Linked DNA regions of Homo sapiens: region 1 is linked to region 2. Evidence: fine-mapped expression QTL. Tissue or cell type: whole blood. Region 2 holds a variant in brackets; the other region holds the start of a gene. All regions are shown on one strand. Distances are from middle to middle.

What was found.
Region 1: EPHA4 starts here. The variant in region 2 is fine-mapped to the expression of EPHA4 in whole blood (TOPMed, PIP above 0.99).

What each region holds. Positions count from the first base shown.
Region 1 is chr2:221,569,320-221,574,654 of GRCh38, reverse strand. EPHA4 (EPH receptor A4) reads left to right here and starts at 2,351. Exons shown (of 18, transcript NM_004438.5): 1 at 2,351-2,497. The coding sequence starts at 2,407. RefSeq lists silencers at 886-1,045, 1,096-1,375, 1,976-2,395.
Region 2 is chr2:221,417,593-221,422,966 of GRCh38, reverse strand. It overlaps EPHA4 (EPH receptor A4), which reads left to right. Exons shown (of 18, transcript NM_004438.5): 18 at 2,415-4,940. Among named protein-coding and RNA genes, the nearest start is that of EPHA4, 150 kb to the left of the region's middle. The variant T/C (reference allele first, on the strand shown) is at 2,419.

The sequences.
Region 1 (5,335 bases), 150 kb before region 2:
TTTCCCGTTTCAAACACAGATAGATACATGCAACACTCAAGATCCTGCAGAGAGGCAGCCAGCATCTATTGTTTAAAAAGGTTTCAAAAAGAATTCGGATTGCTCTTTTCTCTTTTGAATCTGTGTGCCAAATGACAGGGACCAATATTCGTCTTCTTTTTCTGTAAAACTCAGAAAGACACATGAAAGAACCCAGAAATGCATTTCTTAAAGGGATTTAGTGCAGTTATTTTAAATAATTTATGCACGCACACACACATACATATATCCCCCGAGTACATATTTTTTCCCTTTTTACTTGTGTGCAATCAGTAGCTACAATGACTGAAATCCACTTCTTTGGACTGTGACATTTAAGCAAATCTTGTATCTAGAAACCGAAATGCCCAGAGTCTCGCACAAGCTGTTCGTCTGGGCCACCAACTCACACAGCCGCCGCCCAGCGCCTCGGCACGCGTGCTCATCTTGTGTAAAAGTAAAAGTTGCTCATGTCATTAGCTCGGCTCTGAGTTTGCATGAGAAACCAGCGCAGCTCTCGAGCCACGGGAGAAAACACGATCTGCTGCGGAGCCCAGTGACCTGAAACTGTAGCAGTGACTCGAGACCTGTCCTCTCCTCGACGTCGCCCTATAACCCTCCCGCTTTATTTAGGATCCGCTTTTCCGAGAGCAGCCACTCAGGCAACCCCCGGAAGGTTTGTTAGGAGTTTCTCCTTGAAACGCTTTCCGATTCCATCTTTTGAAATCCAGCAGGCGAGAGTCACGACAGACTCCAGGACCTCTTGAGCGCTGTCCGCAGCCCCACGGTAGGAGTAGCCCTAGTGCACGAGACTTGGCGGTGGCTGAAAAGCTCGCCCAAACGCACGCACCACCTCTCTGCGGGGTTGCGGATTGCGGGTTGCGGTCTTTGTCCGCTCGCCCTTCCTCCGGGGCCGCACACTCCCGCATCTGGCCGGCAGGTGGCGCGGTTGGCTCACGATGAGCTGCGGCCGGGGCTGGAGAGGCTCCTCCACCTCCCAGCGGCCGCCCGGCCGCCGGGACCCAGGCTCCCCAGGAAAACTCGGCCCTGCTCTGGAGGGAGTCAGAGGAGGGGCGGCCTGGGAAGGGGAAGGGAGGCCTCATTGCTAGGAATCAGTGCCCCTGCCAGCGCCTGGGGAAATGCACCGAGTGGCGTTGGGGACCGGTCCCTGGGACACCGGCTGCGCTGCCTTCGCCGGACCGCTCTTAGGTGGCCGCGTCCACGGCTCGGGCATCGGGAAAAGACCACAGCCCGATGGTGCCAGTGCCCCCGGGGCCGGAGCAGCCGGGCGGGGCTCTGCGGGTCCTCCTGCTCGCCGTCTTCTCCCGGGGCAGGGAGGGCTGCCCCGGCTAGGTCGGAGCGGAGAGTCGCAGCAGCCGCTCCGGGCAGCTTCCCAGTCCCGGTCTGCCTTGTCTGTGCGGCTGCAAGTCCCCGCACCCACACTTAAGCCTTTCACTTCTACCCCACCGCTCCCAGACGGGCTAGGCCCGGTTCCAGGGACTGCCCCCAACCCTGCCCCCGGGAAATCCACAACTGGTTCCCTGCCCAAGGCCATCTCGGGGCGTCCTGGGCCCTGGGCGAGGTCCACGGCGTGTGCAGGGGGACGGGGCCAGCGGGGACTTCCTTACTGCTAGAAAGTCATTCGTTCAGTCTCTGGAGACAGTGACGGAGCCCTGCTGCGGACTGGACGTTGGGGACCAAGTAGGTCCCCGCTCTCCAGGCATCTGGGGAGCCAGGGAAGAAGCGAGTGATAGAGCCACAAAACTCCCCGCAAAGAGTATTTCAGAGGGGGAAGCGCCATAAAGACAAAACAGGGCAAGGTGGCAGAGGGTGGCGGTGGCAGGCGCGAGTCTGCAGCTCAGCCCGGGCGCGCTGGACGCAGACACGTCGACTCTCCTAAAGAAGCAACCGCAGGTCAGCTTAGACTTCTTTTATTTCAATAAAAGAGCGTTTTCCTCCATCTTAAACCGCCCGTGGTGGGAGAAAAGGTTTCCAACCTCTTCTCTGGCTCCCCTCGGTCAATTCCGAGCTTTTCCAAAGTCCCTCCGCCGTCCAGGGGCTCGACCTTCGAGGTAACGTGGGGGATCCCGCTGGCTCCCTCCGGCAGGCGGGGGCGGGGACCGGCCGTGCTCGCCCCCTAGAGCCCCGGGAGACCGCGCGCCCCGTGGAGCCCGGAGGGGGCGGAACCCTGGGGCGGGCCCTGCTCGGTGAAGGCGGGGCTCGGCCGCCCTGTCTGCGCCGCCATTGGCCGCGGGCCCCGGACTGGCGGGCTCACGTCACCGGCCGGGCCCGCCCCCTTGGCAATGTCTTCAGCCCGCTGCTCTCCTAACTTAAGCATTTATTCCACTGGGATAGAAGCGGCAGGAGCAGCGTTGGCACCGGCGAACCATGGCTGGGATTTTCTATTTCGCCCTATTTTCGTGTCTCTTCGGGATTTGCGACGCTGTCACAGGTTCCAGGGTATACCCCGCGAATGAAGGTAAGAGCGGGACGGCCTTTCTGTGGTCGGGGACAGCGAGGGGCCATCGCGGGTGAGGGGTCCTCAGGAGCGCAGGGCCAGGTGGTGCGGGGGGAGCCCAGTGTGAATGGTGCGTCCCGATTCGGGAGAAGGGGGCTGAGGCGAGGGGATCGGCGAAGGGGCAGCGGGGAACCGCCGGACAGCCTGCCCCGAGGCGGTGACCCGTGCACGCGGCGGGTCTGTCCAAGTTTGTAACCAAAGGCCAAAGTTTATCAGCATCCGCCAGAGAGGCCCGCTCGAGGCGCCCTGAGGGGATGCACGGGAGACAACGCCGGGATTTAAAAAAAAAATTACAAGAACCACGTCCTCTCCTGAGCCAGCCCGGGGCGAGGGGAAAACGCAGCCTGGAGCACAGTGAAGGCTTGGTGCTCCCGGATTCTAGCGAAAGCCTTTCGAGCTCTGGTTTCTGCAAAGTTTCCCGAGCCCTGCGCTTCTCGGGACCGGGCTGCGGGGCCTGCTCCGCAGCGCAGCGGTCGTGGCGCCGCTCGTCAGGCGCCAGTGACCTGATTTCTAGCACCCGGAGTCAGACACCTTTCTCCTCGCCAAGCCCAGCGCCCCGAGGGTGCGATTGCGGGCCTGAGGGGCCCGAGCTCTTCGCCCCGCAGACTTGGGGAACCCGCCGGCAAGTTGAACGCAGTCGAGTTTTAGCTTTTCGCCCCAGAATTGCACACAGTTTAGAGCTAACGTGCGGGGTCGACGGGACCCGTCTGGGTGCTCAGTTTTCTGTGCATCCGTTCGGACGTGCTGGGAGGATTGTATGTGCCTGTGTGTCTGTGTCGGGAGGTGGGGCGGGGCGGGGGGGCGGTGATCATTTAGTTTCTGAGAAACCCAGGGAGAGGCGAACTGTGTGTGTGTGTGTGTGTATGTGTGGTGTGTGTGTGCATGTCTGCGTGTGTGTGCATGTCTGCATGTGTGGTGTGTGTGCATGTCTGCGTGTGTGTGCATGTCTGCGTGTGTGTGCCTGTGTGTGTGCGCGCGCGTGCAACTGCGTGTATGTAGGTGCGCGAATGCCTGCGTGGAAGCGGACGCGGAGGATTGTATGTCTGTGCGCAGATGTCCTGAGTGTGTGCGCGTGTGTTCGAGTGTATGCTCGTGCTCTGTTCCAGCGTATGCTGGTGCTCTGGCCTGCGTGCATCTAGTCTCACATCCGTCTCTCATTCTTCTCCTTTCCGGCATCCATCTATCTATCCGTCCGTCCATCCGTCTATCTATCCATCCATGCATCCATCCATCTCTCCGTGCATCCGTCCGTCCGTCCATGCATCCATCCATAATGCATCCATCCATATATCTGTCCGTCCGTCCGTCCATCCATCCCTCCATCCATCCACCCATTCATCTATCCATCCATCCACCCATCCATCCATCCATTCATCTTTCCATCTCTCCAGACATCCGTCCATCCATCCCTGTGTAATCTATCGTTTTCTCTGTTCCGAAGGAGGGAGCCAAAAACCAACTTAGCCTTGGCTGGGCAGCCGGTACCCGGAGCCCTCCAGACGGAGGCTCTGAGAGATTTATACACCTGCCCACAGACATCGCTTGGGAGGAAAGGGGCCCTCTCTCGCCCTCTGGATCTCCCATCTCCTTCCGACGTGGCTTCTGGTGGTTCTGGTGCCATCTCGGCCGTCGCCGCCCCTCGGTCCCTAGGGTTATTCATTCCCCTGAGAGGAATCGTGGATCCCGCGTTCTCCTGGCCACTTCACACACTTGTTAGGACGTCCCCTGAGACCTCTCTCGCCCCAGATGTAGAGACTGTTTTCTTTCTTTTTTTTAAACCCCCTCTTTTTTTGGGGGGGGGGGAGAAAAACTTGGGAGCCCAAGACAAAAAGGCTCTGAGAGCCCTAGGCTAATGTTGAAGGGGAGGGAGGGAGGTCTGTTCCCCTCCCCTCCCCCACCTCCCCCTTAAAAATTAATTCACTTTGTTGCTTTCTATTCCCATCACGTTTCCTTTTCTCTCTTTTACCCTCCCTTTCTACTCCCTCCTTTTTTTGTAAATTGGGTCTTATTGTTTCCTTTGTGTCCCTAATCCACCTTACATAAATCCAAATGGATGTAGCGGGCTTTTCTCTAGGGACAGAGAGAAGAGAATGGTTGCGGTGGGGGTTGGCGGTGGGGAGAGGAGAGGAGGGAAGGGGGCGGGAACTCCAGGCGGGAGCGACCCAGGGAAGGCTCTACATTTTAAAATCATTAACAGACCCCAGGAATTCAGACTCCCCGGGAAAAGTAGGGGAAAGAGACTGATTTTTAACTCCATTGACTTTGAGGTGAAATGAGAGGGAAAGTGGGCAGAATCCAGGGGTCTGGGGGTAAGCTTGAGTGTTGGGGTGCGCATGAGCACGGATGGCGGCTTCCCATTCCCACCCCTCCCCCAGCCTGAAGAGCCAGCCTGGCTGATCAAATTAATAACCCAGTGGTTCCTTTGAGGTGGGCCTTTCGACCCCCAGGACTGCAGATCTCGGTGGGAAAGAGAGGTTTTGAATTCATTGCGTCCCTTTGGATGTTCCCCTTACCTAGCGCTCTTCTAGCCTGAGCGGGGTACCGCAGCTCGGTGGGCTGTCCTCCCTTCCCCCCAAGCTTTGACGCACTCAGGTGTAGCACAAGCACACTAAAGCCGTTAGGCAGCACTCCATACCTAAAATTCAAGCCAGTGATTTCCTACGGGTGGAAGACGAGTCTCTGATTGTCCCCCAACACATCTTGAGAAAGAGAGAATACTTTCGGTACGTTTGCATTCTGATTCTGCACGTCTGGCATTCCCTCTTTCTGAAACTTTGATATTTAAAAAAGCAGCGGATA
Region 2 (5,374 bases):
TGGAGGTAAATACATATTTATACAATGGTGGTAGACCTTTCAAGTTATGCTGGCAGGATAAACATGCATTATTTAGCCTTGACATTTATAAAATTATTGTTTTGTAATGGGGAAGACAGTGATACAAAAGTAAAATTCTATTGCAATGAAAAGAACTGGATGGTAAAGACATTTTGATGTCATCACGACTGACTCAAAGGAACAAGCCTTTGTTTATTTAGTCACAATGAATTCTCCTTAACTCATGACCCTACATAGACCACATGCTTTGTCTGGTCTCTGTTTAAGAAATTTCCCATGATAAAGGAGTTGCCTGAATTCAATGGTGAGGAGAAGGCTTATTTCACTCAACTCGTATCCTGGCATTAAGTAGATACAAGTCTTCACATTCCCTTACATCTCAATTCAAATGTCCAATCATTTCTGCATACACACCAAGTCCCCAAATTGCCCACTTAATATTACAAATATATTTATGTAATATCTATTGATATCCAGATGTTAAGTGGAGAAGGAATTGGCAGACTGAAAGGCAACACGTGTTTATGAGACCATTCTTTCTCCTTTAAGAATTTCTAGTAGCAAAAGAAACCATTACCAACCTTGTGTGTCCGCAGGACGTGGAATACACTCTAGCGTTTTAAGATCATATTCATGTTCTCCTCATACTTCACATAAATACCTGCCCACCTGATGAAATCCCTTCACATTCAGGTTTCAAAAACTACATTTGATGGATTTGACCGATTTCCAGAGAGGAAATAGTTAGAAGGTAGATTTGATGACTTTTCTGTCATTTTTACGTAATTGTCAACATAACATTCATGTTCATGTCGACCCAGGGACCACAGGTGTGCACAACCATGCCTGGCTAATTTTTTTTTTTTTTTTTAAAGATGGGGTCTTGCTCTTTTGCCCAGGCTGGTCTCAAACTCTTGGGCTCAAGCAGTCTTCCCTCCTTGGGCTCCCAAAGTGCTGGAATTACAGGTATGAGCTACAAGACCTGGCCAGAAAACGATTTCTCTCTCTTTAAATAGACTAAAGTGTTTTCTACAATTTTAAATATGGTCGTTTACTACAAAAAATTAAATTTTATTCTCTACACGATAAATGTACACATATGCAAAACAGACAAGTGATTTGATAAAATAGGCAAAATAATCTATAAAAGTGCATTTTGGTCTTAATTACTGCCCTTTGCTTGAGGCCACCAGCTGCTAAACATGGTCACCGTGGTGGGAGGCATAGTCCAATAAGTAATCTGGATAGTTGGTTGTTATAAATGAAAGAAGGGAACTTACTTCCTTTGGTTTGAGTTGATTATGTGACAAATATATGGACAATGAGGAGCCATGAGGAGTCCATTGCTGTGTGCCAGCCTTGTTCGATTCCAGGCTGATGTCTAGAATTCCAGCCTGCGGCTGATTAGTTCTTGATATGTGGAAGGAGGCTTGAACCTAGAAGACCTCTGTCGTTCATAGAGCAAGTATCTCCCTGTGTCCCATGTTCCCTCTCTCCTGCCTGTTTACATGTAGAGAGTATGGCTCTTTCGCCATGTTAGATTAGATACTTCTATTTATCAGGAGTTACTCTCTTGTTAAGAAAAACCACCACTTTTTTTCACTTCTTAGTTTGCATTTTTCTTTTTTTTCTTTTCTTTTTTTTTTGAGACAGAGTCTCGCTCTGTCACCCAGGCTGGAGAGCAGTGGCGCTGTCTCGGCTCACTGCAAGCTCCGCCTCCCAGGTTCACGCCATTCTCCTCCTGCCTCAGCCTCCCGAGTAGCCGGGACTACAGGCGCCCGCCACCACGCCTGGCTAATTTTTTGTATTTTTAGTAGAGACGGGGTTTCACCACGTTAGCCAGGATGGTCTCAATCTCCTGACCTCGTGATCCGCCCACCTCGGCTCCCAAAACGCTGGGATTACAGGCGTGAGCCACCGCGCCCGGCCCTTAGTTTGCATTTTTCAATCATTATTGTTGACTATGGGTGGATTGTGAACTGAAACAAGTCAGGATTTTCATTTCATAGACAGGCTGTTCAACACGGTGGTTAAAGCATAAATATCAATTAGAACTTTGTGGGGTCTAATCCCAGCCTTGCCACTCCAGAGGGTATGGCATTGGGCAGGGTACTTAGTCTCCTTATGCTCAATTTCCTCATCCATATAATGGAGATAAGAATAGTACCTATCTCGGAGTTGTAATTAAGCTGTTAGTAAACAGGTTTTTTTTGCTCTTATAATTGCTATTTTTCAGAAAAGGAAAGTATAATTCGTGATCTCACCACTGAACTACTTTTACTGAAGGATACCAACTTCTACGAACCTATATATTCTTTCTTACAATAGTGGTTGACAGTTGGCTCGCAATATGGGTCGACGTTTTGTCTAAAGTCTTGCTCTTTTATCTACAGGGAG[T/C]AGATTCTGCTATCTTGGCCTCACAGCCCTTCCTGTTGATTACAAAGCCCGTGGAAGAAAACAGAACACACCCTCCTCAGTTCCGTCTAAATGTGTTTCTTCTGCTTCAATTACACCAGTTCTGGGGCAAAGACACTGATGAAACAACACCCATACCTGAAAAGAATAAATGTGTGACTTTCAAATCCCCTTTCGCAGTGAAAGAAACAGCAAACACTTAAGATTCAGCATCTGTTCTCCAGTTGCACTGAGGAATGCACTGTCTCGCAGCACCAGCTCTGCAGAGCCCTTGCCCCAGACTCTTTGCGGTTTTATTTATATGTATTTCCATATTTCATTCCTGTGTGTCACTGCTGCATTGGTGTGGCAGCAAGTGACCAAATGCTACAGGTCTTACTATGGACACCAGGTCAGGTGCAACCACACAAAACAAAGCCAGTTCCATGAGCTGCCTATGATATGCATTGCGGAAGTAACATTTTACCCAGGGTGTGCCATTGCAGTGATATAAATATATTTTTTTCTTAGACTAAATATGAGCTGACTATCTCTTTTGATGTGTGTACATAGGTGTGAGTGTGTCTGTATGCGTGCCTGTCTGTGTGCGGGTGTGTGTATGTGCGTAGCCTCATGCTTAGGACTACCCATGAATGTTGTGGAATGCTACACCTGGAGAGTTCTGGTTTTCCACCAGTTTCAAGATGAAGAACTACATGATACAGTGGACCTGGAGACCATCCCCTTGGAAAGACAACCCAGAGATGTTCAGCATCCTGTATCTACACGCATCCTGTATCTACACGTGTATTTTGTAGCTGTCACACTAACCTTAATAAGAATTCTACAGCTTTGGACAGAGGCATTTTCACCTTAATGGTGAAGTAATTTAAAATATAAATCCATTCAGGTGACAACCCATCATCAAAATTACAAATTTTCTGATTGAACTCATCTGAATCATCAGTTCCTTGATGGAGAGAGAGAAGGAGATGGAATGTGTCTGGTAACCCCAAATGGAGTACAAGTAGCCTTTGTTTTCCTGCATAAATGGACTTGTTGAATGCGAACGAATATATGCAATTCATATACTTTTGGAGATGAACGTAGATATGTGTGTCAGCTTTGAGATGGTGTGTCCTGGATTAATACTTTGTCTCCCAATATCACAGAAAAATACATGCCAGTGACTCTTGAGGTTAAGGTAGTTGGGATGAAATGGCCTCAGGCAATTTCACATTCCCTAATTACCTGGAAAGTTCTACAGTAATTAATATGCAGCTAACTCCTGTTGCCCTCACAAGAGCATCAGCCTTCTAGAATCGGAGCTCCGGAGTGTGAAGATTCAGTATTGATATGATATGTATACCAAACTCCAGCCAACTTACTGCCATTTTTCATAATCTGAGTGGCTGCCTTGCTTATCCTAAGCTGTGGTTGCAGAAACCGTGGCCATTTATATAAGCTATAACATCAAATCAGGGAAAAATGAGGAAAAAAAATAGATTCTGAACCATTTATTGTTGAATAAGTAGAGAAAATCATCAATAAATATTTATTACATTCTGACAGGGTGTGTGGCATTGTGTTCTATGCCAGAGTGACAAAGTTGATTCACCCCTTTTTGGGGACCTTAATATATTTTTTAAGGGATGTGCCTATGCATTGATGCCTGAAAAATATGTATAAAGAAATGAGGTTGACTCTTCTGAGCAGTTCATCTTTTCCAGAGGTAAGGGTAGGAGGCCAACTTCAGGGTCTGGGTCTGAGCCCGTGGGCAAGCCCTGGCCGAGTGAGCTCCAATGCTAACTCATGTGCCGATCTCTAGAGCAGTGGGAAACTACCCCGCTGCACCAAATCAAGTAGCTTCACCTTGTGTATGCAGGCCCCAAGTTATTTTTTAGCAATCTTACGAGTGAAATGTTCTGGTGGGTTGAAAAACGTTCTTATTTTAAAGAAAGGTTGTGCTCGCTACACTGCTGGTGTGTGCATTCTGAGACCTCTTGTATTCAATCTGTGAAGGATATGTGTATTAATCCGTACACCCGTATAGCCTCAATATTTGTCTGAAGACACTTAAATTCTGACCCATAAAGGAAAGTTCTAGAAGCAATATTTTCACTTATTTAACATTCTCCAAACAACATCAAGCATTGATACACACTGAAGAGTGCGTTTATTTTTTGTATCACTCTAAGTATGTTGGAATATGCAAGGACTGTGGTTCAAATTAGAATGTATAAGGCATATTATAATTTAGTTCATACTGAATAAGAAATTAACAGAACATTGTTCGGTTCACACGTTCCAAACTTTGAGTGATTTCTGGAGTTAGACATAGATTTTCTATTTTGTTTTAATTTGTCAAGGTATTTTTCTTCCCTTCATGAACTTTAGGTACACATAACTTATGTCATTTATTTATGGTCTTTTATACCTAGTTTGTAAAATTGTAAAATAGCAAACTAAATGCAAAGAGTTTGCATTTGAAAATAATAAAGTAGTTGCCGTATACAACCCTGCAATCTGGTTGTCTCTTTCAATAACTTTTGCTATATATATGGTGTGCCTAAATGAATTAATTATTTGTTGTCATTTAATTAAAACAAAAAATCTTAAATTCCAACTGAGCATACTTAGAGGTTAAAAAATTATTATCTTCTAAAGATTCTTCACCCTTCAGAACAATGCATTTGAAAAATCTGACTTAGACCATCGTAATTAAGACTGTAGACTATGGTTGGCATTCAGGCTTCACCACTTACTAATTATACAGTCTAGGGCAAGTCTCTTAACTTCTCTCTGCCCATTTCCTTGCTTGTAGGATAATTACAATGCAAGAGCTTTAAAAAGATTAAATATATTGAAACATTTAGCACAGTGTATAACATCCAGCCAGAACTCAACAAATGGTGGTGATACTCAGTAGCTTTTTTGATGATATAAACTTTCTTCTTCA